Linked DNA regions of Homo sapiens: region 2 is linked to region 1. Evidence: fine-mapped expression QTL. Tissue or cell type: whole blood. Region 1 holds a variant in brackets; the other region holds the start of a gene. All regions are shown on one strand. Distances are between the middles of the regions.

Region 1 (2,763 bases):
GTGTTTATCCTTCAGGAGAAAAAAAAAACTCTCTCTCTCTCTCTATATATATATATATAAAATTATGTATGTGTGATACACACACACACACATACAACAAACATACACATACTTGCATGCATCCAAAATGATAGTAATTTGTTTTAGAGCCAGGTTTATGAAGGTGCAACTTGCATAAATGAAAGTCCATCGTCCTTAGTGTACAGTTCTATGAGTTTTGACAAATGTATACAGTGATATGCTCACTACCACAATCAAGATGTTGAACAGTTCCAACACTCTGCAAAATTATCTCATGTGCCTTTGTCGTCTGTGTCTCCTTAGTCACCAGCCCTGAAAACCACTAATCTGTTTTCTGGCCCTAAAGTTGTGCCTTTTCCAAAATTTCATAAAAATGGAATCATATAATATCTATGATTTTGCATCTGGTTTCTTTCACTAGAAAATGCATTTGAGACTCATTCATGTTATTGCATATGTGAGTAGTTCATTCCATTTATTGAGATTAGCTTTTCATTGTATGGATTTACCACCATTTGTTTACTCACCTATTGAATGACATTTGGGTTGTTCAAGGTTTTGGTGTTTAAATTGCGTTGTTTTCCTACTTGTATTGCATTGTTGTAGATTCTGGACAGAGATTTATATTTTGCAAATATTTTATCCAAGTCTGTTTTTTGTCTTTTTGTTCTGTAAACAAACATCCTAAGAGTAATCATTTTTCATTTTGAAGCAGCCTCATTTATCATTTTTCTATTATGGATCATATTTTTAGTGTTGTATCTAAGAAATCTTTGCCTAACCCAAGGTAACAAAGATGTTCTCCTATTTTCCTACAGAAGTTTTATAGCCTTAAGTTTTACATTTAGGTTTGTGATTCACAAAACGGTAACTTTTACACCATGAACAAGATTATGACACTTATATTATCTCATGTTGCATGTTACTTCCAAGTTTACAAAGCAATCCATTAAGCCTTATCTCACTTGCTCATAACCCCGTGCTCTTTCTTCTGTTTCTATTTAGTGGATAAGGAAACTGAGAATCAGAGGAAATAGGTCACCCAATGTCTAGTATCTAGAGGAACCAGCATGCATTCTAGGACTTTTGACCCCAAGTTCATCCTCCTTGCATTATATACTACATGGTTTTAATTGGTGTAGAAGTAGAATCAGTGGCAATTTTATTTCTTAGTAAAGAGGAAGATAAAACAGAAAGAAGAAAATTCAGCTATACGTTTTATTCTTGAAATTGTTTCTTATTCTTTTGCATGAAATGACCATTAATTTCCCTCTGATGAAGTGGAAAGTGAATACAAAGTTGAAGTCCTGAAATATAATCCTAGCCCCACCACTTCCTAGGTCTTTGGCCTTAGGCCAGAAGCTTAAGGTTACTAAGCCTCATTTTGCTCATCTATAAATAATGAAAATAACTACCTTACAAGATTGTTGTGAGGATTAAATTAGATAAAATATGTGAAAATGCCTGCTGTAATACCTGGCACACAGTAAATTTTATTACATGTTGATTTCTTTTCTTCCTGACACACCTGGCATTTATCACTCTTACCAACAAGACTCCAGTAACATATAGAGTCCTCACTGATCAACACACAAAATT[A/G]TATTTAAATATTTTTCAGTATTTTATTGATGAGCATTGGGTTTGTCAACTTAGGAAACTGATATGTTAAGCAAAAATTTTCTTTCAGAAAAGCTACAGCTTTTCTTTTTCTTTCAGAGAAGCTACAGCAATATGTGTTTAATCAATAACTTATCCCAGAGAAAGAAATCCCAAAACCTATTTCAGTAACTCAGCATAGCATTCAGTACTTACTTCTTCTGGTTATCTTTCTTCCTAGTAATAACGAACTTTTGTTGAGTCCATTCAGTGTGAACATTCTAGGGTAGAAAGATCTTACATATTATCCCTAATCCTTGCAACAGACCTTTAACTTGTGAAACCAAGTTTGAATAATTTGAGTAGGATTACACAGAGAGAAAGTGATGAAGCTGGAATTAAAATCCAAGTCTGCTCTATCCAAGTCCAGTCTTCTGGTTTCATATCCTACTACGCTGACTCTTCACATTTCAGTTTCAGCTGGCCACTGCCCTCTGTATAACAATGCTAACCGTCACTCAAGAGTCTTACAAAGTCAACTCTCAGCCTTCTGCAGTGATCTTAGCTCCTTTCATTCTTTTCCCACTAGGCTGATTTCAGGATCTTAAATCATCTAAGCAGCTCATCTTATAACATTTACCTGTTCTCACCTACCTTTGCTGTGCTGGTACCTGGAATTAGACTCGGGCTTGGGCATGAGTAATGCTGACTGGGTAGCATTAGAAAGTCCTGTAGCTGCTACGGTATCACCCTCCTGTGTGTGCATCTGTGGCAAACATACTCATTAACTCGTGAAACAGAGGCAGGATTTCTCCTAAATTTCTGGCTTAACTGTTGCTGGTAAAGAGGCTATTGCATTCCAGGCACTGGCGTTTACATTCACTTCATCAGTTACTAAGAAGATTAGCGAGGTAACAGTGTTTATAGGACATTTTCTATACCTAGCACTGGTGATCAACATGGTATGGGCTACAGAGTAGTGGAGAGCAGAGTCCCATAATCTATTTTAGGATACAAGACTTCCATAAATAAAAAGATAATTGTAGACTGGCCATGCACAATAAGTGTTCTATGAGCAGTGCTGACAGAAAATGCGTTATACCCAATGTGAGCCCATGCGCCATCAGCAGGTAACCTCCATTTCAT
Region 2 (2,612 bases), 290 kb after region 1:
GCCACATTAGAAAACAGTTCCAGGTTTTTGGTTCTCTTAAGAAACTGGAACCTCTGGGCACAGTGTGTGTGCCTATCTTCTTTTGTGGAAAAGTAGGCTGGAGCTGAGAATTGGCTGCTCTCTTTACACAGGCTCTACAGTTTGCCATTCCCTACCACTCCTGAATGTTTTACACCCATATTTATTTTGTTGCTTCACCCTGCAGTCGGGAGACTCCTGCAGTTTATGAAATTGATACAACAGGGCTTTTTTTTTTTTTTTTTTTTTTGGTAGGGGGTGCAAATCTCTTTGATTTGAGGGGAACGCAGTGGTCGCTTTTGCTTCCAAACAGCCTTAAATCTGCCCGTTTTTCAACGATCTGACCTTACTTTTTCAGGGTGGCCAAAAGCACAAAATTATGAATCAAAGAATGGTCCCCAATTACCACGAGCCAGCTGTGTGACCTTGGGCGACTCCGTTAAGTTCTTTTAGCCAAGAGTGATGAATGGTCTGCAAAACGACCTTAATACCTGTTCTGAATACCCCCACATGGCTGTGGTACAGCAGGCGTGAGATGTTTAAAGTACTCCTAAGTAATTTATAAACTGCAAAACGCTTCCCAGCACAAGCGTCCGCTACAGAGCGCGACGACACCGAGCCGGTTTAGAAGTCCAGTTACTGGAATCCACTCCAGTTCCGTCCTGCTCCCACCTCCTACGCTCAGGGTGGGCGAGCGGAAGGAGACTCTCAAGGGAGAAGGCCTGGAAAACTGGCTAAGAAACGAAGCGAGAAGTTCCTCAGCAGGGGTAAAGTTGTTGGCGGCATTTTTAAGCCCCTAGAGTGGCACAGCGACTCCCGGTCGAGATGACGGACCCCGGTGCGTGACCAGCGCGGGAGCCAGTCCCGGGCCACCTCCCTGCTTGAAGTCGGGCCTGGCCAGTACCCTCCCGGCGCAACCCCGGACCCGGGACCCCCGACTTTGCCCTAGTCCCCAACCCCCACAATCACCTCCCTTGGTCCCCCTCCACGTGACAAGAGCCGGAACCGTCACTTCCGGCGGCGCGGGCAGCGCGCCTGCGCGGGTCGCCCGGCCTCAGTGAGCGGTTGGCAGCAGCGCCCCCCCCCCCCCCCCGCCAACGGCCACGAGTGGCGGGCGGCGCGGGTTCGGCCGGGGCGGCGGCGGCGCGACGGGCTGCGGTCCTGCGGGTTTGTGGCCTGAGACGTCTAGCCCACTCCCTGGAGGGGCCGGCCGCCCAGCCTCTTTCGCTCTCTTCCTCTACCCCGGCTCGCGCTCCAGGCGCTTAGTGAGGCGGCGGGACGCCCGGGGCACTGGCGGAGGCGGCGGCGTCGCCCCTGGATTCGGACCCGCCCCCTCGCGCCCCGCCCCGTCCCCGCCCTCCCCACCGCCCTCTGCGGGAGCCGGGCAGCTGCAGCGGAGCCGCGGAGCGGGCGGCGGGGCCCAGGCTGTGCGCTTGGGGAGCGCGGAATGTGAGGCTTGGCGGGCCGCAGCACGCTCGGACGGGCCAGGGGCGGCGACCCCTCGCGGACGCCCGGCTGCGCGCCGGGCCGGGGACTTGCCCTTGCACGCTCCCTGCGCCCTCCAGCTCGCCGGCGGGACCATGAAGAAGTTCTCTCGGATGCCCAAGTCGGAGGGCGGCAGCGGCGGCGGAGCGGCGGGTGGCGGGGCTGGCGGGGCCGGGGCCGGGGCCGGCTGCGGCTCCGGCGGCTCGTCCGTGGGGGTCCGGGTGTTCGCGGTCGGCCGCCACCAGGTCACCCTGGAAGAGTCGCTGGCCGAAGGTACGGGCGCCCGGGGAGGCTCGGACAGGCAGGTGAGGGAGGGTTGGGGTGTGGCGGCGGCTTCTCCGGGTCCTCGCCCTCCGGACTGACTCTTATACCCCATTCTTCCTCTGCTGCCGGGCCAGCGGGGGCTCCTAAAGAGTGGCTCGGGCTTTCTCTCTTAAGCTGGCTTTTCTTGCCGCTGGCTGCCCCGGCCGGTGCACAGTTCTCTCATGCCTAGTTTAAATCATTTTCTGTGCTTTTTGACGCGAGAAAATAGGTAGTAGACGGGCTAGGAAGTGGGTTGGTGTTACGATTGGGCCAGTGACTCATTAGAGGGTCAGATCGAACAGGGTTGAAGCTCCGTTCTGCCAGCTGTGGCTCAGACGGGTGTCATGCGTTGGCCTTTTCATCTAAGCCTCCACCCGCGCTGCAGGGCATAGGACCCTGCAGCCCCTGGTGTCAAGCTGGGCTTTGCTGCAGCTCAGTCATCTGTTGAAAAACAATGTATTTGTGTGCATGTGTGCGTGTTGGAGGTGATCCTTTGCTCTAAATTCAGTTAGTAGGTTGCACTGAGGAGCAGGTAAACTTGGAGCCCATTTATCTTTGTTATTTAGAATCTTCTCTGTTGGACAAGGTGCTATTCATGCCCTCCCAGTATGTCTCTTTGATAGTAGTTTAAAAGGTGATATAAAAGCAGGTTAACTTTCACTTAACGAGGTTTTGTGGTCGGTCCTTCATGATCTGGAACAGGTTATGACGGCAGGTAGAAGTCTACTTACAAAAAAAGTTTACTCCATTTTAAAAGAAGAACTTAGAATTTAGTTTTGTATTTCTGGCATAATTGCCTTGTAGAA

Evidence for each region. PIP is the estimated chance that this variant, and not a neighbour inherited with it, causes the effect.
Region 2: BMP2K starts here. The variant in region 1 is fine-mapped to the expression of BMP2K in whole blood (TOPMed, PIP above 0.99).

The regions. Positions count from the first base shown.
Region 1 is chr4:78,483,740-78,486,502 of GRCh38, forward strand. The region is part of intron 58 of FRAS1 (Fraser extracellular matrix complex subunit 1); the gene reads left to right. Among named protein-coding and RNA genes, the nearest start is that of ANXA3, 67 kb to the right of the region's middle. The variant A/G (reference allele first, on the strand shown) is at 1,621.
Region 2 is chr4:78,774,946-78,777,557 of GRCh38, forward strand. It overlaps BMP2K (BMP2 inducible kinase), which reads left to right and starts at 1,405. Exons shown (of 16, transcript NM_198892.2): 1 at 1,405-1,776. The coding sequence starts at 1,599. It overlaps BMP2K-DT (BMP2K divergent transcript), which reads right to left and starts at 1,025. Exons shown (of 1, transcript NR_186689.1): 1 at 1-1,025. RefSeq lists enhancers at 641-1,271, 1,904-2,534 and silencers at 738-987, 1,078-1,747, 2,109-2,309.